Linked DNA regions of Homo sapiens. The protein of the gene in region 1 purifies or fractionates together with the protein of each later gene. This does not show direct contact. Each region holds a gene or a part of one and is shown in the gene's direction. Other genes may lie near its edges. The genes, in order: MTF1, SMARCA5, LMNB1, RBM28, DDX27, DRG1 and DDX18.

The links.
Region 2: the proteins of MTF1 (region 1) and SMARCA5 purify together in Homo sapiens (affinity purification with mass spectrometry, with the first as the bait; one large-scale study listed by BioGRID). This does not show direct contact.
Region 3: the proteins of MTF1 (region 1) and LMNB1 purify together in Homo sapiens (affinity purification with mass spectrometry, with the first as the bait; one large-scale study listed by BioGRID). This does not show direct contact.
Region 4: the proteins of MTF1 (region 1) and RBM28 purify together in Homo sapiens (affinity purification with mass spectrometry, with the first as the bait; one large-scale study listed by BioGRID). This does not show direct contact.
Region 5: the proteins of MTF1 (region 1) and DDX27 purify together in Homo sapiens (affinity purification with mass spectrometry, with the first as the bait; one large-scale study listed by BioGRID). This does not show direct contact.
Region 6: the proteins of MTF1 (region 1) and DRG1 purify together in Homo sapiens (affinity purification with mass spectrometry, with the first as the bait; one large-scale study listed by BioGRID). This does not show direct contact.
Region 7: the proteins of MTF1 (region 1) and DDX18 purify together in Homo sapiens (affinity purification with mass spectrometry, with the first as the bait; one large-scale study listed by BioGRID). This does not show direct contact.

Annotation. Positions count from the first base shown.
Region 1 is NC_000001.11:37,825,093-37,828,592, reverse strand, and holds part of MTF1 (metal regulatory transcription factor 1), read left to right. Parts: intron 1-3,500. UniProt on the Homo sapiens protein: Zinc-dependent transcriptional regulator of cellular adaption to conditions of exposure to heavy metals. Binds to metal responsive elements (MRE) in promoters and activates the transcription of metallothionein genes like metallothionein-2/MT2A.
Region 2 is NC_000004.12:143,520,202-143,523,701, forward strand, and holds part of SMARCA5 (SWI/SNF-related matrix-associated actin-dependent regulator of chromatin subfamily A member 5), read left to right. Parts: intron 1-1,227; coding exon 1,228-1,394; intron 1,395-3,500. UniProt on the Homo sapiens protein: ATPase that possesses intrinsic ATP-dependent nucleosome-remodeling activity.
Region 3 is NC_000005.10:126,815,136-126,818,635, forward strand, and holds part of LMNB1 (lamin-B1), read left to right. Parts: intron 1-34; exon of another isoform or gene 35-112; intron 113-1,499; exon of another isoform or gene 1,500-3,500. UniProt on the Homo sapiens protein: Lamins are intermediate filament proteins that assemble into a filamentous meshwork, and which constitute the major components of the nuclear lamina, a fibrous layer on the nucleoplasmic side of the inner nuclear membrane.
Region 4 is NC_000007.14:128,337,409-128,340,908, reverse strand, and holds part of RBM28 (RNA-binding protein 28), read left to right. Parts: intron 1-1,117; coding exon 1,118-1,276; intron 1,277-1,587; coding exon 1,588-1,682; intron 1,683-2,107; coding exon 2,108-2,183; intron 2,184-2,566; coding exon 2,567-2,659; intron 2,660-3,500. UniProt on the Homo sapiens protein: Nucleolar component of the spliceosomal ribonucleoprotein complexes.
Region 5 is NC_000020.11:49,222,416-49,225,915, forward strand, and holds part of DDX27 (probable ATP-dependent RNA helicase DDX27), read left to right. Parts: intron 1-541; coding exon 542-601; intron 602-852; coding exon 853-1,018; intron 1,019-2,529; coding exon 2,530-2,576; intron 2,577-2,697; coding exon 2,698-2,784; intron 2,785-3,500. UniProt on the Homo sapiens protein: Probable ATP-dependent RNA helicase. Component of the nucleolar ribosomal RNA (rRNA) processing machinery that regulates 3' end formation of ribosomal 47S rRNA.
Region 6 is NC_000022.11:31,416,604-31,420,103, forward strand, and holds part of DRG1 (developmentally-regulated GTP-binding protein 1), read left to right. Parts: intron 1-3,500. UniProt on the Homo sapiens protein: Catalyzes the conversion of GTP to GDP through hydrolysis of the gamma-phosphate bond in GTP. Appears to have an intrinsic GTPase activity that is stimulated by ZC3H15/DFRP1 binding likely by increasing the affinity for the potassium ions.
Region 7 is NC_000002.12:117,828,191-117,831,690, forward strand, and holds part of DDX18 (ATP-dependent RNA helicase DDX18), read left to right. Parts: intron 1-758; coding exon 759-815; intron 816-1,098; coding exon 1,099-1,276; intron 1,277-2,391; coding exon 2,392-2,534; 3' UTR 2,535-3,500. UniProt on the Homo sapiens protein: ATP-dependent RNA helicase that plays a role in the regulation of R-loop homeostasis in both endogenous R-loop-prone regions and at sites of DNA damage.

The DNA of each region.
Region 1 (3,500 bases):
TGGCTTACGCCTATAATCCCAACACTTTGGGAGGCTGAGGTAGGCGGATCACCTGAGGTCAGGAGTTTGAGACCAGCCTGGCCAGCATGGCTAAACTCCGTCTCTACTAAAAATACAAAAATTAGCCGGGTGTGGTGGCGGGCGCCTGTAATCCTAGCTACTCGGGAAGCTGAGGCAGGAGAATCACTTGAACCGTGGCGGCAGAGGTTGCAGTGAGCTGAAATCGTGCCATTGCACTCCAGTCTGGGTGACAAGAGCGAAACTCTGTCTCAGAACAAAAGAAAACAAACAAAATAACATTCCCAGCACCCCAGAGGCCCCCCCCTCACATACCCCCAAAAGCCATGATCTCTCCCTGCAGACAACCACTATTCTGACTTACAACAACTAAGATTAGTTTTTCCTGTTTTTTTTTTTTTAATGCTTTTATGATTGGAATCATATACTTGTTTATGTGTGGCTTTTCTTCTCATAACATTATGTTTAAGAAATTAAGCCATATTATTACATACAGTTACAGGTCATTCATTCTTCTTGTTGAACAATATTACACTAAGTGAATATACCACAATACACTAAATGAATATACCAATATTTGTTCTTTCTCCTGTTGGGCCTTTGGATAGTTTCCAGTTTGGAGCCATTATGAATAGTGCTGCTGTGAACATTTTTGTACATATGTTTTGGAGGCACACAAGCCCATTCCTTTTCTTTTCCCTAGTATTATTGAGGTATTAGGTTGGTCAAAAGTAATTGCCATTGAAAGTAATGGCAAAAACCGCAAATACTTTTGCACCAACCTAATATCATTGACAAATATAGCTCATTCGTTTTTAATTATGTTACTACCTATAATGATTTATAAACAGAACAAAAGTAATAACTATGGCTGGTCGTGGTGGCTCACACCTGTAATCCCAGCACTTTGGGAGGCCGAGGAGGGTGGATCACGCCTGTAATCCCAGCACTTTGGGAGGCCGAGGCGGGTGGATCACGAAGTCAGAAGATCAAGACCATTTTGGCTAACACGGTGAAACCCCATCTCTACTAAAAATACAAAAAACAAAATTAGCCGGGCATGATGGCAGGCGCCTGTAGTCCCAGCTACTTGGGAGGCTGAGGCAGGAGAATGGCGTGAACCTGGGAGGTGGAGCTTGCAGTGAGTCAAGATCATGTCACTGCACTCCAGCCTGGGCAACAGAGCGAGACTCTGTCTCAAATAATAATAATAATAATAATAATAATAATAATAATAACAACTATGAGGAGGTTGCAAAGCTTATGCTCAGTGGTAGTTGTTAGTCAACTATTTTTCAAACTGGATTGCACCTTTTCATTGGGTTTTAAAATAGTGGTTTATAATCAGCATTTCAAAGACATCAATAGAATAGAAAAAAAATCAGAGGACATTGCACATAGTAAGGATAAGGTCTGTTTCATAGACTTGTTTCAGTTACACATATGGATATGTATATAATATGAAGAATGTATGTATATACAGTGTAAAATGTATTTCTTACTTTGTGTCACAATGAAAATTTGAAAGTCACACTATTGGCCTATGAGTTTTAACTCTGTCCGGACTGGAAGTTGGAAGTTGTCCCACATAGATTTGAGATGGAGTCTTGCTCCATCACCCAGGCTGGAGTGCAGTGGCTTGATCTCAGCTCGCTGCAACCTCCACTTCCCAGGTTCAAGTAATTCTCCTGCCTCAGCGTCCCGAGTAGCTAGGATTTGAAGCACGCACCACCATGCTCAGCTAATTTTTGTACTTTTGGTAGAGACGGGGTTTCACTGTGTTGGCCAGGCTGGTTTCGAACTCTTGACCTCAAGCGATCTGCCTGCCTCGGCCCCACACAGTGCTGGGATTACAGGTGTGAGCCACTGCGCCTGGCCTCACATAATTTCTGACTTCACCTTCTATCATATTGGCAATCAGGATCACTGAAATGAAGAAAAAAAAAAAAAGGAATCACTGAATTTCCCCTCCTTCAGCTGATAGACGTAGAAGAGAATCATCAGCTGGTGGTGGTGGCTCATACTTGTAATCCCAGTGCTTTGGGAAGACTGCTTGAGGCCAGGAGTTCAAGACCAGGCTAGGCAACGTAGCAGGACCTTATCTCTACTAAAAATAATTTTTAAAAAGCAGCCAGGCATGGTGGCGTGCGCCTGTAGTCCCAGCTACTTGGGAGGTCTAGGGGAGGATCTTGAACCTAGGAGTTCAAGGTTGCAGTGACTTGACTGCGCCTCTGCACTCCCGCCTGGATAACAGAGCTAGACCCCGTCTGAAAAAAAGGGGGGGAAAAGAAGAATTGCTCCCTTTTGGCTCCAGTGGGCAATTTAATCTTTGAGCACTTCTAGATTGGTGGACAGCCCCACTCATCACCACACTTCTACCCAATCCCAAAGTGATCCTTCTGAGTTCTGCCTTCTAGAAGCAGAGTTGTTACAAAATGACCTTAAAACGTATGTTGGCACTAGGGCAAGATCTGCCCTAAAAAGAGGTTTTAGTTTGGTATATACAGTGTGTTTAAGTTATTTTCAATTACATGTGACCCTTGAACAACACAGGGGCTAGGGGTGCTGGCCTCCCAACCCATAACCCCCTGCACAACCAAATCCTAGTATAACTTTTGACTCCCCCAAAACTGAGCTAGCAATGGCCTTAGCCTACTGTGATTGGAAGCCTTACTGATAACATAAACAGTTTAGATTAGCAGATATTTTGAATGTTATATGTATTATGTATTGTATTCTTAAAGTAAGCTAGAAAAAAAAAAATGTTAAGAAAATCACAAGGAAGAGGAAATAAATTTACTATTTATTAAGGGGAAGTAGATCATTGTAAAGGTGATTCATCCTCATCGTCTTCACATTGAGTAGGCGGAGGAAGAGGAAGAGGAGGGGTTGGTTTTGCTGTGTCAGGGGTGGCAGAAGTGGAAAAAAGTCCCAAGTATAAGTCCACTTGTGCAGTTCAAATGCATGTTGTTCAAGGGTCAGCTGTACTTGCTTTTATTTACAAGTTGGTAGATTTCATGTAAAAATCAAAATTTCTGGGTCTGATGTGGTGGCTCACACCTATAATCCCAGCACTTTGGGAGGCTGGGGTGGGAGGATCTCTTGAGCCCAGGAGTTCCAGACCAGCCTGGACAACATAGTAAAACCCTATCTCTACAGAAAAATTAAAAAATCATCCAGATGTGGTGGCCCATACCTGTGGTCCCAGCTACTTGGAGGCTGAGGTGGGAGGATCACTTGAGCCCGGGAGTTGAAGGCTGCGGGGAGCTATGATCATACCACTGCACTCCAGCCTGGGCAACAGAGTAAAGAAACCCTGTCTCAAAAAAAAGAAAGTCAAAATTTTGCCACTTGAGTTCTGGTAATCCCTGGCCTGCATATTCCCATGGCAGCATTCGGCTGAAGCCCTTGAGGTGACTGGCATGCATTCTCTCCAGTATGCCACAACCCACCTCCCTTGCTTCACGTATTTCTTTTCCCTC
Region 2 (3,500 bases), on another chromosome or scaffold:
ACATCTTGTAGATGCGTGCTCTTGGCTTTTGTTTCATTATCTATAAATTAAGAAATGTAATTATGTAAAATATGCATTCACATATGTATCTTGTTCAGCACTTTAAAAACAGTCTGTAATCTTGGAAAACATAAATAACAGAGGCTTGTCATCTGTAGGACATTACTGGGGTTCTAGCATGTTCACAGTCTTGTTACTGTGCAGATTCATTTGCTGCTATGACTGCCATTTGTGACCCAATGAAACACTATAACCATGTGCCTTCCTAATAGCAAATTGGGCTTCAGTTTTTACATTGGTGTGACCTTAAAAAATGATTATGTTCCTTTTAAAAATACGTAGTTGTTACAACATTATGGCATTTGGATACTTCTTGTGTTTGCTAGGTAAAATGTCTTTTTGTAATTTATTCCCAAACTGACATTTTAAACATTTATAGACAGAGATGTTGAGTAGTTGGTTTCCCTGTTTATTGAGCTTTTCTTGTCTTGCTTCTCCTTTGTTTCATCAAACTATTATTGTTTTTGTATAAAGGCTGCCTAATGGCTCCCAATTTCATTATTTTTATGAAAATTTGTCTTCGAGGCTCTTAAGGTTTTTTTTGCCCAAGTAAATTTTTTCCATTCTCTCGGTATTATAATAGGGAACATTCAAAGGGGCAGATGGCAGATACGAAAGGAAGGAATAGTATCAATCCCAATACCGTTTTAAAATTTGTCACAGCCTAACTAATGAATGAGCACTGCATTTTTTCCAGCTTCTGAGTAAATTCACTTGTATTGCACAGTGTTTAATATTTTAAAAATTGTTCCGATCAACTGTATTGAAGTATAATTGACATAAAATAATTTTAAGTTTGTAATTCAATGAGTTTTAGCAAATATTTCTTTAAATACCATCACAATCATGATGCAGAGTAGTTCCATCATCCCCAAAGTTTGCTCCTGCTCCTTTCTAATCAGTTCTTGCTCCCACCTCCTTGCCACTTCTGATCTGCTTTCTATCACTAGTTAGCATTTCATTTAAGTGGAATCATACAGCATGTAGTCTTTTGTGTTTGGCTTCTTTCACTTTGCATAGTGCTTTTGAAACTCATCCATGTTGCATTTATCTGTAGTTCTCTTTTTTTTTTTGCTGAGTTCATTGTATGGAGGCATGCTGAAACTTTGATTTCTGAAGTTTTAATTGATACTCTGATAAAATGTATCTTAAATTTTTTTTTTTCAGCAAACTGACCGGGCAAATAGATTCGAGTATTTATTAAAGCAGACAGAACTTTTTGCACATTTCATTCAACCTGCTGCTCAGAAGACTCCAACTTCACCTTTGAAGATGAAACCAGGGCGCCCACGAATAAAAAAAGATGAGAAGCAGAACTTACTATCCGTTGGCGAGTGAGTAATAGTTTAAACTTCATAGTTCAACCAAACTTATTTTCGATAGTCTTCAGTGGAAGCATAAAATCACTATGATAAATAACTTAAAATTATTTTAGTGCCATTATTTATTTGGCCCTGTTTGGCTTGGCATGATTTAGCCATAAATGTATAAGTATATAAAAATACGCATAATGGTTAGAGCACAGTGGCTCTTGCCTGTAATCGCAGCATTTTGGGACGCCAAGGTGGGAGGATTGCTTGAGTCCGGGAGTATGAGAGCAGCCTGGGCAACGTAGGGAGATCCCATCTCTACAAAAAAAAAAAAAAAAAAAAAAAAGAATAAAACTGCATAACGCCTTATTTTTTGTAGCATTATATAGTTTATGAATTGTAACAATCATGTTGAGTATGGAATTTAGATGTCACGTCATTCCTCAGAGAGGAAACAAATGCAGAGGTTAAGTGGCTTGTTTAACATCACATTGAAGAATGATCCAGACTTGAATTTGAATCTGACTTGGGTGTGCTCTAGGCTCCTCCATCACATACAGATGTTGACAGTATTTTATCTAAAGTGTGGTGTGTGGGATATTGTGATGACTTACATCACGGCAGCCTGTTTAAAATTTTTATTGCATACTTAGTTGTTTTTATATAAATTGAAGTGTCACGTTGTATGCCGTCCTTTGGTGGTGGTTGAAAATAATTCTTACATGTTGAATTTGGAAATTCTCTAGAATTTTCATTCTGGTTGGATAAATAAGATGTTTAATTAGTAATAGTAGATTTAGGGCAGTCTTGGCTCCCTGAAATGGCTTTGTGTAATTCCCAAAGTGAAAACTGTGATTAGTAATTAAAATACAAAAGATTGTTTAAAAGAAGAAGTATCAACAAGGTTAAATTCACTACACAGTTTGTTGAAAGAGGGAAGTATGATCTTCATCTTGAAGGGGTTATCGTTGTAAGCATAATACCTTTTATTTGGGGTATTCCACTCATTCATTATATCTTATTTCTCATCCATTGTGACCAAAGCACTATTTTAATACTTACGAAACTTTGAAGGGACAATTTTGCCCTTCAGCTGTATTTAAAATATTTCAGACTTCAGAAGTTTGCATTAGTGTCATGGCATGAAACTGGAAACTACTGTACTGAATATTGTTATGGGATAGTCAGTATGATGTCTCGAAAAGAAACACTTCTTTTATTCTTTTCTATTTTATTATTATCCTAATTTATCTTTTTTATAAGATAAAAAAGATTCTATTGGAAATAGTAATAATAAATTGTTAGGCTTAATGTATTAAATAGTGTTATTAGGGAAAAAAGTCCTAGTTAACAGATTTCTTTACTCCTCAAACCATCTTAAATGGGAAGCTAATTTACCTAAAGTAATGAGGGTCATAGTATTGTCTTTGGGTATCAGGAATACATTTTTTTAAATCTTTTTTTGTTTGTTTGTTTTTATTGAGACAGAGTCTTGCTCTGTGGCCCAGGCTGGAGTGCGTGCAGTGGTGTGATCTCGGTTCACTGCAAGTTGTGCCTCTGGGGTTCAAGCGATTCTTGGACCTCAGCTGGGATTACAGGCTCACGCCACCACGCCCAGCTCATTTTTGTATTTTTGGTAGAGATGGGGTTTCACCATGTTGGCCAGGCTAGTCTCGAACTTCTGACCTCAAGTGATCCACCCACCTCTGCCTCCTAAAGTGTTGGGATTACAGGCGTGAGCCACTGTGCCTGGCCAGGAATACGTTTTTTTTTTAAGTCATTCACGATTATATTCAATTTTTAACAATAAATGACATCTCAGCTTTTAAGTTTTACAACTGTAATAATCAAACATTTTGAGAGTAACTATAAAGGATATTTTATAAAAAGAATTTAAAATTATCTCCCAGTTTATGGAGAATAAATAGGGGATGGAAGTAGATCTTTGTACTCAATTTCATAGGCTCAGAATGCAGAGAAGTACAAGGAATAACAGACTAGGATGTACTGATTATGATTAGAAGCATATATAACAAACAAGAAGGCCCTTGAATTTCTGAGGAATGCTTCTATCTTGGAAGGCCGCTTATCCTTTTAGCAAGCATGTGGTTTTGGTAGAAATGAAGTTAC
Region 3 (3,500 bases), on another chromosome or scaffold:
TTTTTGAATATTTTCCTATTGTTTGTCTTAATAGTGTTTGTTGCTGAGTCATATCAGTTTCATCATGCTGCCTATTAGGCCATAAGAATTTCCTTTTGGTTAAATAACTCAGGTTAGTGAAGTACTTCTTAAATTTTACTTAAAATTGACATGGCTTTAAAATACTGGTTTTACAAGATATATTTAAATAATATATAGATGGTAGCAGTGTTATGTTTTGGAATTAGAAATTTTACATTGCTTATAGCATCTCTAGATTTTTGACTTGGGACCAAATGAATTGGTTGGTTAGAGTCTGCTTGCCTTAGAGAAGAGTACAGTATGGTACTTAAAAACACCTCTAACTTTTGTTTTTCTAACACCCAGATTCTGGAGACTTTGGTTGCAGCTAGACCTTAATAAACCAGTACAATTACATTACATACTATAAAATATTTAAAAACCCCAAGATCATCAGAAGTCATAAAATTTAGGGTTAGTGGCAAGATCTGAGAGATCATCTAGATAGTTAGAGCTCTTCATTTTCCTTATGTGGAAACTGGTTTAGTGAGATTAGTTACAGCTTGCTTATAGCCTCATAGGTAGTTTCAATGGCAGAATTAGAAAGGAGAATCTAGGTCTAACTTCTCATACTGTGTTCCTTATATTTCACTACACAGGTGTAAGTGCAGCTACTGAAAATAGAATTTAAATATTTCTATTTAAAATACAGAATGATTCAGAGTAACTTTAAAATTTTTATACCTAGATTTTGATTTTTCCCTCTTAAAGAGCTCTACAACATCAAAGGCAGTCAAACAGAGACATCATTGGGTTTATAAATCTCGGCTCAGGTTATCTGTGAATCTTGGGTAGTTTATATCTCTCATCAACTCTCCTTTAGATTCTACCTTTTTGCCCATTCAAATATATCTTCTACCTCTGATATATGAAATAAAGGGAGGCATTTTGAACTTACATGACTTTTTTTTTTTCTTTTGGAGAAAAAGAAAATACAAGGAACATGGTAGCGGGGAAATGGATTTCTCCATTTATAGCATGATTTTTGCAAACGCAGTTAAATGCAAGTTCTCTGAGGTTCAGGGACTACCTTTGTAATATCCATCTTAAGAGGAGTGCCTGTCTAAATAGCATGTCAAGTCATATACTACTCTGGAATTTAATTAATTGATTGGTCAATTTTTTTTCTTTAAAAATATATTTTTGTGTGTGCGTGTGAACCAGGCACCCCCTCTGCCCCCAAATAGGTTTACAGTGACTCTTGATTATTTTTTAAATAACCTTGTTATTTTGGCATAATTTTAGATTTACAGAAAAGTTGGCAAAGTACTATAGACAGTTCTTGTTTTCCTCTCACCCATTTTCCCCTGTTGTTAGCATCTTATGTTACCATAGTATATTTGTCAAAACTAAGAAACTGACATTGGTATATTACTGTGAACTCGTCTCCAGACTATTTGGATTTCACCAGTTCTTCTGTTATCTTCTTTCTGTTCCAGGTGCCACATGCCTCCCCTGGTCTGTGACAGTTTCTTGGGCTTTCCTTGTTTTTTATGAGCTTGAGTCTTGAGTAAGATTGTCCAGGTATCCTGTAGACTGTCCCCCAATTTGGATTTGTCCGGTGCTTTTCACGTGATTAGACTGGGGTTTTGGGTTTTAAGTGCCCGTTTTGTCACATCGTATCAGGGATTGCACGTATGTGATAACCACATGACATCACTGGTGGTGTTTGGTTTAAGATAGTGTTTGTCAGGTTTCTCCACTGTCAACAGCGCTACTATTTTTCCGTTCCCATACACTGTTCATGGAAAACAGCTCACTAAGTCCAGCCTACCCTCAAGGGTGAAGGACAGGGCAGGACTTAAGCGCCACATTCTGGAGGGAAATCTACATTTATTAAATGGCATTCTTCTGTAACGATTTATCCATTCCCCGTTTGTTTGGTTTGTTTGTTTGTTTGTTTGTGTCCGTATGGACCATGGGCATTTACTTTATACTTTGGGTTGTAAGCTAATACTGCAGTATTTACTTTTTTGGCTTAAATTGTTTCATATTTGGCCACTGGGAGTTCTGTCAGCTTGGCCACTATGTCCCATTGTTTTTTGAGCACTTTGTTGCTTTCTGGTACTATAACATGCTCTAGGCTCATCTTGCATTTTCCCTGCCCCAGTCCTAGAATTATCCAGTCTCCAAGGAGCCCTGGTTCTTGTTATTGGAGAATGGTATATAGAAATTAAGATCTGGGCACTGAGTGTGCTCACTGGTACTGGGTATCACTGCTTCTTGGCCCTCTCACCGATAAAAGTGGGTAACATTTTATGTATGCTAACCCATGTGTATGCACATATTTATAACTTTTTCTGTCTAATCATTTGTGTTAAGATAAACATGAATTCATACAGATGTCTCTGACTTGAATCTAGTAGGACAGCATTCAATTTTGGCTTCCTTTCTGACATACCTGTATCTTTTCTCTCTCAGAGTGAGAAACCTGGTTTTTATCATCCATTTACTTATCTGTTCAGCCCCAGTATATGTTAAAGCAGTTTCAAAATTTTGAACCTGTACTGCTGTGAAAAGTAAATTTACCAGCAAGAGTACAGTTTTTATGTATTTGGTAGCTCCTTTTTATCTCTAGCCTTCTAGATTTAGTTTTTGCACATTAGATGCCCTTTCTCTCCTGCTCTGTTGCAGGTACTTGTGATTCTGAGGGCCTAAGCTATCCATCAGTCTTTTTGAGTTGTCACTTTCTGAGGCTACTGAGATGAATTCTGTCATGGAGAAACACAGAAGAATAATTACCCAGCGAGCCACAAGGTTTCTAAGATGAACTTTCTGGTGTAGGATGTGTGATTTTTAATTTTTTTATGCCAAATATACAGCTTCTATATTCACAGTAATACTTTACAAATCACCCTATATTGTGTGTCCTTTGTGTGCTAACTGAACATGAGATAGCCCAGCAATCCTAAAGGGACACTAGGTAGTGCCTTCCACATAGTAACCAGAGTCCCTTTGCCTTGGTTTCTGAATATTCCTCAGCAGTCTGCTAAAACGTACTTTTACCCACTCTTAGGTTTATTTTGTCAGTCAGTGTTTATATCTTTTTTTTTTTTTTTTTGAGACAGAGTCTCGCTCTGTTGCCCAGGTTGGAGTGCAATGGCGTGATCTTGGCTCACTGCAACCTCTGCCTCCGGGGTTCAAGCGATTGTCCTGCCTCAGCCTCCCAAGTAGCTGGGATTACAGGCGCCCACCACTACAACCTGCTAATTTTTTTTGTATTTTTAGTAGAGACGGGGTTTCGCCATGTTAGTCAGGCTGGTCTCAAACTCCTGACCTCAGGTGATCCACCTGCCCCGGCCTCCCAAAGTGTTGGGATTACAGGCGTAAGCCACCACACCCACCCAGTGTTCTTATCTTTTTAAGTTCTTTATTTAATTTATACTTTTGGAAGTAAAGGCTTTGTAAGGGAGCCAGACTTGACTTTTACCAAAACCACA
Region 4 (3,500 bases), on another chromosome or scaffold:
ACCCTGTGTGACATTAACCAATTCACTTACTGTCTTCCATCTCAAATTACTTACTTGGAAAGAAGGGGTGATAATATTTGCTTTACCTATTTTGAGGTGTTCTAAAGATAAAATGAGACAAGAATGCACAGCTGCTTTGGAAAGGTTTAATTTGATATCGACAGCTAAGGCGTTGGTAATAGTGGTCATAACATCTGCAGTCTCTCTGAGCAGTATTTATTGTTTGAGGTTCTTTTGTCTGGGCCTCAGGCATTTATTGCTGATCTATTTTGAGGAGTAACTGCATTATTGTGTTCTGATTTTTGAAGCTACCATACTGTCTTAATTCATTTTCTGTTGCTTATAAGAGAATACCTGAAACTAGGTACTTTGTAAAGAAAAATTTATTTCTTAAGTTCTGGAGGCTGAGAAGTCCAAAGTTTAGTGGCTGTATCTGGTGAGAGCCTTCTTGTTGGTGGGGACTCTGCAAAATGCCCAGACAGTGCAGGGTGTCATGGCGAGGGGGCTGAGCATGCTAATGTGCTTGCTCAGGTCTCTCTTCCTCTTCTTATAAAGCCCCCAGCTCCACTCTCATGATAGCCCATTAATCTATTAACCCATTAATCCATAAATTGATTAATCCATTCCTGAAGACAGAGTCCTCTGATCCAGTCACCTCTTAAAGACTCCACCTTTCAATACTGCTACATTGGGGATTAAGTTTCCAACACATGAAATTTGGGGGACACATTCAAACCATAGCATATACTTACCTTTCCTGCCTTCTTTGGTGATGTTTTGTTCTTTTTGATGTTGAGTTCTTTGAGGGCCTCATATGTCATGGATTCTCTGTTTTCTTGGGATTATCAAGAAAGGGGGAAGAAGGGGAGCTAACAGCAAAGACACTAAATTAAAAGAGGAGGAAGGCTAACAGTTTCTAAGCAAAGTGGGGAGGGAACCACTGATACCACCCTTGTTTCTCGCCCTCCTGAGACTTTTGGCAAACTGATAGCAAGATGGGTTGGCAGTATATCCTCTAGCTTAGGCTTTGAGGATTTACTCATTTAGTGCTCTTGGCTTATGATTCTCTCTCCTTTTCACACTGCCCCTCCACTCCCTCCCCACTCCATTATTCCAGGGAGTAAGGCATGTCGAGGCTTTGGCTATGTCACTTTTTCAATGCTGGAAGATGTTCAGAGGGCCCTCAAGGAGATTACCACCTTTGAAGGTTGCAAGATCAACGTGACTGTTGCCAAGAAAAAACTGAGGAACAAGACAAAGGAAAAGGGGAAAAATGGTGAGTTTCTAGTAATTGAAGGAAGTTTTTCTCCCAGGGTGAGGAGGAGCACTATGAAAATGAAAGAGGGAGGCATGGAGGTAGCTTCTAGAACTTAAAGCTTTTTGCATTTCTTTTTGATCTCCAAAATCATCCAGTGTATTGTGATACTCATTTTAGTTCTTTGGAAAAATCTGGTATTCCTTGGTATTATTGCCACACTTAACCCTGTGGTAAATGCCATCTGTCGCCAGTAGCTTTTTTTTCTGTGATGTTCTGGCGTAGAAGTGGGTGATTTTCGAGTACTTATTCCATTACCTCTTATTTTTTAGAAAACTCAGAGTGCCCAAAGAAGGAGCCGAAGGCTAAAAAAGCCAAAGTGGCAGATAAGAAAGCCAGATTAATTATTCGGAACCTGAGCTTTAAGGTAAGTGAGAGAGAAAATGAACATTGCATGTTTTGAAGGCTTTTAGAGCCAAGATGTGATCATTAGTAGAACTCCTCACCAAGATGGTATAATTGGGCTTAATTCCTTCTGGGAATCAACCTTACCCCTGTTGAATTCAGAAAGTGGGCCTGTGTAATAAGGGCACTAAGTGTGAAGCTGCTTTCCTTTTTGGGGAAACTACTACTGAGAAAGAAAAGGTAGAAAAAGTTCTCAGACGTCTGTGTTTTTGCCTCTTAGGTACAAAGTAAAATGTCTTCTATTTAGAAACATTTGATGTCCTAGTATCAAAAATAAAAAAAAGTAAACATTCATGTTTTTCATAATTAATGAATTTAGTAGTTGATGTTTTATGTTAATTTGCTGTGATTGTGTTTCTCTTTTTCTTTCTTCACTTTTGGCTTCAGTGTTCAGAAGATGACTTGAAGACAGTATTTGCTCAATTTGGAGCTGTCCTGGAAGTAAATATCCCTAGGAAACCAGGTACTAATAAACCTTCACTTGGTGTGGATTACGTTAGTTAACATATTACCCTTGAACAAACATATATGATATATATGAAGTATTTGGCACAGTGCTTCACATCTAATGAAAACCCAAATAATGGTTTTATTCCCCTGATGATATTTTCTGTTGGATCAGAATTAGTTTTAGAAGGCGAGTTAGTTTGAGAAAGTGTTTTGCTCTCCCCAAGTCCAAGTCAGAGTATACTCAGTAAGAAGATGTAAGCAATTGCTTTGGGGAAGGGCCTGACCTGCTGGCAGAATTTGGGCCATCTTGTGGGCCTGAATTGCAGTAATTTACTTCTTAGTATTCTGGCTACCTCCTGCTGCCTCTCACTTCTTTCTTTGTGCATTTGCACACAGATGGGAAGATGCGCGGTTTTGGTTTTGTTCAGTTCAAAAACCTCCTAGAAGCAGGTAAAGCTCTCAAAGGCATGAACATGAAAGAGATAAAAGGTAAGCTTTCTATACCCATATCATTGACCCAGATATTTCTGGTGTTTTGGTGAATTAGTGTAGTAACCCACTTTCTGCATTTTCAAAAGATGTTTGCATTATTAAGAGTCTCATTGCTAATACGGTAGCTATTTAGGTGAAATACTCTAGAACTTGATCTTGGGGTTAAACTTGAAAGAACCCTTGCCAGTATTCTTTCTTTTATCTGGTGAGAGTGTCCTTTTAAATCCCTAGTGAAAAATGTCCCTGAGATAATTGCTGATAGATGCAGGTTGGTATCTAGATTCCTCCTTGGTTATATCACTGTTCAGCATCTGTGGGCTATTTATTAAACTGACTGTGATTTATATATTGACTTATCAAGTACTGTGCCTAAAGAAGTTATTGCCGGCCAGGTGCGGTGGCTCACACCTGTAATCCTAGCACTTTGGGAGGCCGAGGAGGCAGGTGGATCACCTGAGGTCAGGAGTTCAAGACCAGCCTGGTCAACATGGCGAAACCCCGTCTCTACTGAAAATACAAAAATTAGCCAGGTGTGGTGGTGCATGCTTGTAATCCCAGCTACTCAAGAGGCTGAGGCAGGAGAATCGCTTGAACCTGGAGGCGGAGGTTGCAGTGAACTGAGATGGCACCACTGCACTCCAGCCTGGGCGACAGAGCGAGACTGTGTCTCAAAAAAAAAAAAAAGAAGTTATTGCCGTAGAGATGTCCTAGCTTCCAGGTAGGGTGCAGATGATTCCAGAATGCCTGTTTTGATTCCTGATAGTCTAACTGGAAACATAGTTCTAATTCTTTATTTTTTTACTCCATCTTATCCCAGGTGTGGTGGCTATGTAGAAAG
Region 5 (3,500 bases), on another chromosome or scaffold:
TCTCCTGCCTCAGCCTCTTGAGTAGCTGGGATTACAGGCATGAGCCACTGTGCTCAGCCTTACCAGCACTGCATTTTCAAGATCGTCTGGAGAGGATTAAAAAAATTTTTTTTTTTGAGACGGAGTTTTGCTCTTGTTGCCCAGGCTGGAGTGCAATGGCGTGATCTCGGCTCACTGCCACCTCCGCCTCCCAGGTTCAAGCAATTCTCTTGCCTCAGCCTCCCGAGTAGCTGGGATTACAGGCATGCACCACCACACCCGGCTAATTTTGTATTTTTTTAGTAGAGACAGGGTTTCTCCATGTTGAGGCTGGTCTCGAACTCCTGACCTCAGGTGATCTACCCACCTCGGCCTCCCAAAGTGCTGGGATTACAGGCGTGAGCCACCGCGCCCGGCCTAAAATTTTTATATATATAATATGTATATGTATTTTCAGAGAAGGCCAAAATTTTTTCTTTTTCAAGTTAATTATGAAGAGTTTGTTCTCTTATTCGATGTTTCAATGAAAATTTCTTTTTCACCTCTTTATTTTTATCTGCAGAGGGCAGCCACTACATTAGATGAGAAGATTGAGAAAGTTCGAAAGAAAAGGAAAACAGAGGTGAGAAGAAAAGTGGCTATTTTTCGTTGTTAGGGCCCACTCTTTACTCTCACCACGACCCCAGCATCTCTCTGGAAGCCCTTATAGAGCGGGGCATGGCTGGGGCAGGCGCACTCTTCTGTGTGTTTGCTGTGAATCTGTACTGAGAATCCCCACAGCCGTTCATTCAGGCCGGAGAGCTTCCTATCGCTCTACTTAGGTTCTGGATTTCTAGAAGTTTCTCATCACCCTCACTTTAATTTTTTTCCCAGGATAAAGAAGCCAAGTCTGGGAAGTTGGAAAAGGAGAAAGAAGCAAAGGAAGGCTCTGAACCAAAGGAGCAGGAAGACCTTCAAGAGAATGATGAGGAAGGCTCAGAAGATGAAGCCTCGGAGACTGACTACTCATCAGCTGATGAGAACATCCTCACCAAAGCAGGTAGACGTTACGGCGGAGGTGTCAGTAATGGGGACAGGAGATCAGAAGGCATCCTCCTTTACTTTGTAGGGTTTCCTCCACTCTTCTGCACAGTTTATCTTTAAGCTGTTCTGCCTACTACATTGAACTCCTTTCTTTCTTTTTTTTTTTTTTTTAAGAGATGTTGGCTGGGTGCAGTGGCTCATGCCTGTAATCCCAGTACTTTGGGAGGCTGAGGTGGGTGTATCGCTTGAAGCCAGGAGTTTGAGACCAGCCTGGGCAACATGGTAAAACCCCATCTCTACTGAAAATACAAAAATAAGCTTGGTGTAGTGGCATGCACCTGTAATCCCAGCCACTCAGGTGGCTGAGGTACGAGAATCACTTGAAACTGGGAGGCAGAGGTTGCAGTGAGCTGAGATTGTCCCACTGAACTTAACCCTGGGCCACAGAATGAGACCCTGTCTCAAAAAACAAAACAAAAGAGATGTGGTCTCACTCCATCCACAGGCTGGAGTGCAGTAGTGCAATCATACCTCACTGGAAGGCTTGAACTCACTGGCTTAAGTGATCCTCCTGCTTTAGCTTCCTAAGTAGCTGGGCCTACAGGTGCATGCCCCTGCGCCTGGCTAATTTTTTTTTTTTGTAGGGACGGGGTCTTGCTTTGTTGCTCAGGCTAGTCTCAAATTTCTAGGCTCGAGCAGTCCTCCCGCCTTGACCTCTAAAAGTGCTGGCATTACAGGCGTGAGCCACTGTGCCCGCTGAATCCTTTCTTTTAGGTTTTCTTTTCTCTTGGGATTTTGTTTGGGTTGTTGTACTTCATAGGTAGTTTACTCTTTTCCCATCTAGCCCCATGCGGCTGCCAGATGCCACTGTGATACAAACTCATTTGGGGTGACATACTCAGATGGGTCCAGCCACATAGTGGGTGCTCAATAAGTATTTCTTTCTTTCTTTTTTTTTTTTTGAGATGGAGTCTTACTCTGTCACTCAGGCTGGAGTGCAAGTGGTACAATTTCAGCTCACTGCAACCTCTGCCTCCCGGGTGCAAGCAACTCTCCTGTCTCAGCCTCCCAAGTAGCTGGGACTACAGGCACACGCCAACACACCTGGCTAATTTTTGTATTTTTAGTAGAGATGGGGTTTCACCATGTTGGACAGGCTGGTCCCGAACTCCTGACCTCAGGTGATCCACCTGCCTCGGCCTCCTAAAGTGCTGGGATTTTAGGCGGGAGCCACTGCTTCCGCCCTCAATAAGTATTTCTTGCAGAAATGTGTGCTAAAGCATCATAATACAGTGTAGTGGTCGAGAGCCTGGTCTCTGGACCAGAGTCACTGGGTTAGCTTTCTCTCTGACCTTAGGCAAGTTACTTCACCATGCTGCCACAAAGTGTCCTCATCTGTGAAACAAGGTTGACGATGGTCACCCCTCAGAGGCTGAAGTGTGGCATTGGCACTTAGGACAGTGTCCAGCAGGATGCAAGTGCTTTGTAAGTCTGAGCCGTGGTCATCAGCTAAGTTTTTCTCCATAGATACACTCAAAGTAAAGGATCGGAAGAAGAAGAAGAAGAAAGGACAGGTGAGCTTGGGGCTGCAAGACAGTATGCAGCTTGTTGGCAAACCGAAAGGAGTTTAAGGTCGTTTGGGTTTCTTGGCTCTTTTTGTTGAATTCTCTTCTCTCTTTTGGTTTTCTGGTGTAGGAAGCAGGAGGATTTTTTGAAGATGCATCTCAGTACGATGAAAACCTCTCGTTCCAGGACATGAACCTTTCCCGCCCTCTTCTGAAGGTAGCAGCTTCTTGTCAAAAATTTTCTTTGTAGAAGCATGGTCTTGCTATGTTGTCCAAGATGGTCTCAAATTCCTGGCATCAAGCAATCCTCTTGCCTCAACCTCCCAGAGTGCTGGGATTTGAGCCACTGTGCCTGGCCAGTAGTGGCTTATTTTGGCAACCATGGGATTATTGCAGCCACCCCTAACTGGACTTTCTGCTTCTCTCTTTGCCTCCCTCAACTCTTGTCCATACAGTTGCCAGAGAACTCCCTTTTTTTTTTTTTTTTTTTTGAGACGGAGTCTCACTCTGTCGCCCAGGCTGGAGTGCAGTGGCACAATCTCGGCTCACTGCAACCTCCACCTCCCGGGTTCACGCCATTCTCCTGCCTCAGCCTCCCCAGCAGCTGGGACTACAGGCACACGCTGCCACGCCCTGCTAATTTTTTGTATTTTTAGTAGAGATGGGGTTTCACCGTGTTAGCCAGGATGGTCTCGATCTCCTGACCTCGTGATCCGCCCGCCTCAGCCTCCCAAAGTGCTGGGACTACAGGCGTGAGCCACCGCGCCCGGCCGAGAACTCTCTTAAGCAATGAGTTCCATCGTGTCCCTCCTCTTCTTCTCTGAGTCCTTCAGTACTTCCCAGTCTCACTCTTCTTAGAAGCCTGAGTCCTTATATTGACCTACAAGGCTCTGCCCCTTCTGGCCCTCTCTGACGACACCTCCTGGCACTCGT
Region 6 (3,500 bases), on another chromosome or scaffold:
AATTAGCCAGGCATGGTGGCAGGTACCTGTAATTCCATAGTCTGTAATTCCAGCACTTTGGGAGGCTGAAGCAGGTGCATCACAAGATGAAGAGATCGAGACCATCCTGGCCAACATGGTGAAACCGCGTGTCTATTAAAAATATAAAAATTAGCTGGGCATGGTGGCGTGTGCCTATAGTCCCAGCTACTCAGAAGGCTGAGGCAGGAGAATCGCTTGAATCCAGGCGGCAGAGGTTGTAGTGAGCGGAAATTGCACCATTGCACTCCACCCTGGTGACAGCAAGATTCTGTCTCAAAAAAAAAAAAAAAAATAGCTGGATGTGGTGGTATGCTTCTGTAGTCCCAGCTGTTCGGGAGGCTGAGGTAGGAGGTTCTCTTGAGCCCAGGAGGTCAATCTGCAGTGAGCCATGATCATGCCACTGCACTGCAGCCTGGGCAGCACACAGACACCCTGTCTCAAAAAAAAAAATAATAATAATAATAAGGCCGGGCATGGTGGCTCACACCTGTAATTCCAGCACTTTGGGAGGCCGAGGCGGGTGGATCACCAGGTCAGGAGATCGAGACCAACCTGGCCAAGGTGGTGAAACCCCGTCTCTGCTAAAAATACAAAAATTAGCTGGGTGTGGTGGTGCGCGCCTGTAGTCCCAAGCTGCTCGGGAGGCTGAGGCAGGAGAATCGCTTAAACCTGGGAGGCAGAGGTTGCAGTGAGCCGAGATTGCACCACTGCACTCCAGCCTGGCGACAGAGCAAGACTCTGTGTCAAAAAATAATAATAATAAAAATAAAATCATGGCTGCTTGGTGGCTCATGCCTGTAATTGCAGCACTCTGGGAGGCTGAGGGGGGTGGATCACTTGAGATCAGGAGTTTGAGACCAGTCTGGCTATCATGGTGAAACCCTGTCTGTACTAAAAATACAAAAAGTAGCTGGGCATGGTGATGCATGCCTGTAGTCCCAGCTACTTGGGAGGCTGAGGCAGGAGAATAGCTTGAACCCAGGAGGCGGAGGTTGCAGTGAGCCGAGATCACGCCATTGCACTCCAGCCTGCATGACAGAGCAAGACTCCATCTCAAAAAAATAAAATAAATAAAATAAAATCAGGCTGGGCATGGTGGTACATGCATGTAATCCCAGCACTTTAGGAGGCTGAGGCGAGCGGATCACCTGAGGTTGAAAGTTTGAGACCAGCCTGACTAACATGGAGAAACCCTGTCTCTATTAAAAATGCAAAATTAGCTAGGAGTGGTGGTCCATGCCTGTAATCCCAGCTACTTGGGAGGCTGAGTCAGGAGAATTGCTTGAACCCAGGAGGCAGAGGTTGTGAGCTGAGGTCGCACCAATGCACTCCAGCCTGGGCAACAAGAGTGAAACTCCATCTCAAAAAAAAAAAAAAAGTCTACCACTGAGGCTGGGCATGGTGGCTCACGCCTGTAATCCCAACACTTTGGGAGGCCGAGGTGGGCAGATCATGAGGTCAGGAGTTCAAGACCAGCCTGAACAACATGGTGAAATGCTGTCTCTACTGCATCTCAAAAAAAGAATGAGGGGTCAGGGTCAGGTGCAATGGCTCATACCTGTAATCCCAGCACTTTGGGAGGCTGAGGCAGGAGGATCACTTGAGGCCAGGAGTTCGAGACCAACCTGGGCAACATTGCAAGACCCTGTCTCTACAAAAATAAAAATTAAAAAAAAGAAAAAAATAGCCATGTGACATGGCACACATGTGTAGTCCCGGATATTCAAGGAGACTGAGGCAGGATGATCAGTTGAGCCCAGGAGGTGGAGGTTATAATGAGCTATGATCATGCGACTGCACTCCAGCCTGAGTGACAAAGCGAGACCCTGTCTCTTCAAAAAAGAGAATTTTAAAAAATGAGGAACTAGAAAGTTGATGGAAGCAGAATATTTTTTTTTTTCTGAGATGGCGCTCTGTTGCCCAGGCTGGCTGGAGTGCAGTGGCATGATCTCGGCTCACTGCAACCTCTGCCTCCCTGGTTCAAGTGATTCTCGTGCCTCAGCCTCCTGAGTAGCTGGGATTACAGGTGTCCACTACCATGGCCAGCTAATTATTTATTTATTTATTTATTTTTGTAGATGGATTCTCGCTCTGTTGCCCAGGCTGGAGTGCAGTGGCGCAATCTCAGCTCACTGCAATCTCTGCCTCCCGGGTTTAAGAGATTCTCCTGCCTCAGCCTCCCAAGTAGCTGGGACTACAGGCATGTGCCACCACATCCGGCTAATTTTTTGAATTTTTAGTAGAGATGGGGTTTTACCATGTTGGCCGGGATGGTCTCAATCAGCTCACCTTGTGATCCTCCTGCCTCAGCGTCCCGAACTGCTGGGATTACAGGCGTGAGCCACTGCGCCGGCCAGTTTTTCTATTTTTAGCAGAGACAGGGTTTCACCATGTTGACCAGGCTGGTCTCAAGCTCCTGACCTCAGGTGATCTTCTCGCTTCAGCCTCCCAAAGTGCTGGGATTATAGGTATGAGCTCCCGTGCCCAGCTGGAAGCAGGATTTTTGACAAATGAATTTTAATATAGAAAAAGGCCAGATACTGTGACTCATGCCTGCAGTCTCGGCAGTTTGGGAGACCAAGGCAGGAGGATTGCTTGAGGCCAGGAGTTAAAGGCTACAGTGAGCTATGATCATGCCACTGCACTCCAGTCTAGGCAATAGAGCGAGACTCTGTCTCTGTCAATATAAATATATATTAATAAAAATAAGATATGCAGGCACAAAAGACTACTTTTTTTTTTTTTTATACAGATTGAATCTTACTTTGTTGCACAGGCTGGTCTCAAACTCCTGGCTCCAAGCAATCCTTCTGCCTCAACCTCCCAAAGTGCTAGGATTACAGGCATGAGCCACTGTGCTAGGCCAAAATAATATATTTTATATGATTCCATTTATATGAAATTCTAAAACGTGCAAACTATGGTGGCAGAAAGCAGATCAGTGGTTGGCTGGCAATAGTGGGGAAGATTGAAAGGAGGCACAAAGGAATGCTGTAGGTGATGGAAATATTCCATGTCTTGATTGGTTTGGTGGTTACACAGGTATATACATTTGTTATTGAACTGTGTGCTTTAACATGGATACAATTAAAAAAAAATTGTACCTCAATAAATTTGGTTAAAAATTTGCTAACCAAGGGTGGGCGCAGTGGCTCATGCCTGTAATCCTAGCACTTTGGGAGGCTGAGGTGGGCGGATTGCCTGAGCTCAGGAGTTCGAGACCAGCCCAGGCAACATGGTGAGGAAACCTCGTCTCTACTAAAATACAATTAGCCAGGCATGGTGGCATGTGCCTGTAGTCCCAGCTACTGGGGTGGCTGAGGGAGGAGAATCGCTTGAACCCGGGAGGCAGAGGTTGCAGTAAGCCAAGATTGTGCCACTGCACTCCAGCCTGGGCAACAGAAAATGTGTCAACTCTTGGGCAAATAGGTGCTGATTTCATGGCATACAAAGCAAATTGACTTCTGGTATAAATCTTC
Region 7 (3,500 bases), on another chromosome or scaffold:
ATTTGTTTAAGTTCTTAGTAGATTCTGGATATTAGTCCTAGCCAAAATTGACAAATGGGATCTAATTAAAGAGCTTCTGCACAGCAAAAGAAACTACCATCAGAGTGAACAGGCAACCTACAGAATGGGAGAAAATTTTTGCAATCTACCTATCTGACAAAGGGCTAATATCCAGAATCTACAGGTTGACATTTCATTACTTATCTTTCTCCCCCTCAAGACGGCAAGCTCTCTGAGGGCAGAGTCCATGAGTTAGGTACCTATTTTCTCTCTAGCACCTGGCACAGGCCTGTTGCTTTTCTAGTTATCTAATGAGTGATAACTGATGGCAGATCCATCCTGTAGGAGTTTGTGGTCATCATGGCCTCCAGTGTCACAAGCCTCAATACAGGACTGTGGGGGTATTAGGGCCCCTCTTCTGACATGGAGAAAAGGGGCTGATGGCCCTTCTGACTAGAAGCTTCAAGCTGATTCATGGTTGCAAATAGTCAGGATTATAGAGATTCTTACAGAAAAGTGCTTTACTGACTGTGTCCCTATCCAGTTCCTTGCCTTTCAGAAAGAAAGAAGTGCAGATTGCCTAACTCAGCAGAGCAAAGATGTAACTTTCCCATCAACATTGGGAGACTAGAAAAAGCAGATTTTCCTTTCTGTCCTGAGGGAATTTCATAGGCCGGTTCATCCTTCCCTGTCTTCAGTACCCAGTATCGGAATGCTGATCATCCTGGTTTACTAATCTTAATACTTTTGATTTCTAGGTTCCATTAAGTGAATTTGACTTTTCCTGGTCTAAAATTTCTGACATTCAGTCTCAGGTATGTGCTTTTTAAACGTTTGTGAGTAAACAGGAACCTTGTCCCAGCACTCTGTTTGTAGTGATTCACTGGGCAATCACTGTCCTTTGAAGTCTACCCTGTCCTAAAGTGAGGATCAGGCTGTGTAGTGTATAAGGTTTCTTGCTATTCTAGTTATCACCACTCTGTGCCCTCTTTAAATGTTTTCCATGGAGTGGCTTTGCTCTAGGATATTTAAAATCTGGTGTTTTGGAGGTTTTTGTTTGTTTTTGTTTATTAAAACCAGTGTTTCTTTCTATTTCAGCTTGAGAAATTGATTGAAAAGAATTACTTTCTTCATAAGTCAGCCCAGGAAGCATATAAGTCATACATACGAGCCTATGATTCCCATTCTCTGAAACAGATCTTTAATGTTAATAACCTAAATTTGCCTCAGGTTGCTCTGTCATTTGGTTTCAAGGTGCCTCCCTTCGTTGATCTGAGTATCCTTTTCTTTAATGAAGTTATCCTGTGACTAAGGAACAAAAGCTTGACAGAGGGGCATTTGGGGCTTTGCAGTGGATTGGTATGTGTTCTGGCTCAGACTGGAGGCTCCAGTGTTCACCCTGGTCGATGTCTGCTTTTCTGTGCTAGCACAGGACATAGAGGTTGGATGGGGTAAGCAGGGCTTAATCATTAGGATGGGGTTACAGGGACAAGGCAGCTTATGCCTTGAGCCTTCAAAAGACAAAGAAATTTGACTGTCAAGGAGAGACAGAGACAGTTGTGTGTTCCAGGCAGAAACACAGGTTAAAAAAATCAAAACTTCAGTGTTTGCTGAGGCTGCACTGTGCAGGGTACTTAGGTGAATGGGGTGTTTTGAAGCTAAAGAGAGGATGGGACCTTTCAAGGAGTTTTAATCATCTTAGAACCCCTGAAGGATTTTATGCAAGAAAGTGGCAAGTTCAGCAAAAGAAAATAAAACTTAGGTGTTGCTTAAGATAAAAGGCAGGAGTACTTCCAGTTGCTTCAGTTGTGATTTATAATTTGTGCCTTTCAGAAGAAGAAACTGAGCAGCTGAAATGAGGCCTGTGCTTCAGTGCCATAGGGGTAACTTCTGAGGGAACTAGAGGACCAAATTTTGGGTCACCATCCCCATTGTCAGCATTGAGTAAATGTCAGCTGAAATGAATGTATGTCGAGTCCTGTGGAAGGAAGAGCAGCTCCTTCACTTAGGCATTCCTAAATCAATTCCGAAGAGAAATGATAGTCATTTGTTTTGACACAGGAGGTGTTTTTTTAATGTGCTCCTACCAACTTCCTGATTAAACTCATAAATCCTTATTCACTGTCATGAATTTCATCGTGTGGAAGAAATAATTAATATGACTATTACACACCGAAGTTTAAAATCATACCTGCTAATTTAAGTCCACAGTCACGTGGCCACTCCTAATTTTCTGGAAATTTATTGCATAGGCTTATGTTCCCACATTTTCATTGTTGAGAATGGGGTTGTGGAGGAACAGTAGTGTTCATGCCGGTTTTTTTCTCTGTGTAGATGTTAGATTGGAGTTCATTATCTTTTTTGCTTGATTTCCTTAATGTTTGCCTCCAGACGTCAACAGTAATGAAGGCAAGCAGAAAAAGCGAGGAGGTGGTGGTGGATTTGGCTACCAGAAAACCAAGAAAGTTGAGAAATCCAAAATCTTTAAACACATTAGCAAGAAATCATCTGACAGCAGGCAGTTCTCTCACTGAACACATGCCTTCCTTTCATCTTGAATAACTTTGTCCTAAAATGAATTTTTTTTCCCCTTGATTTAACAGGATTTTTGTAGACTTTAGAATTTGGACTTACCTAACAAGAGTATAAATTGACTTGGGTTGCAAGCACTGAGCACTGTTACTTCTATCACGTCTCTCTTTTATTTCTGGGATATAAAACAGGCTTTAAGTTTCTTGGTTGCCCAAGGGCAGAGCAAGGAATATCTGGTGTTTCTTGTGATGATAATATTTTAATTTTAAATATCCCTCCCTCATACAAGTGTATGTTACCATTTTAATATAATTCTTTTTGTACCTTTCCTTCTTGTTTTGCGAAGATTTTTGTGGCATGGATTGCTGTGCTCACTGCTGTAAAAGGTGACCTAGTGTACTGGGCAGCTGGTGGCGGTGCAGAAAAGAGTCTCAGGTTATTTTTTGTTTTTAGTTATTTCTTGGACCTTGACAGTATCTAATGACTCCTCCTGAAAATGCTGCAGTATAAAAGAGCAAAGAGCTTTGGGAAATACCTAAGAAGCACCTTAAGATTAGGGTGGCATTGCTTTTATAGATTCTTGATTTTAAAGCAACAGGCCTTTCTCAGGTGTTGCATTTTTTGGAGCAAAAACTATGGGTTGTAATTTGAATAAAGTGTCACTAAGCAGTTATAACGTTTGATGGCTGGGGGGTAGGAAGAGGATGGAATTGAGATGTTTGAGCCTCATTTACATCAATAGAGGTGTAATGTACTGCATTTCTTCATTTGGTAACATAACAAAGACTTTCATACAAAGAACGATGATGCTCCTCATTAAGATTTGTTTAATTCAAGGTGGTTTGGATTTGGTAAGCCTTTGCACTCTGTAGAGTACTTAGAAGACAAGGGCAACTTACTTGGAGTTAGAGCCAAGCTGTCAGACGGTGCCCAGCACACATTAATGTTAGCTTCTTTCTGAGAAAAAA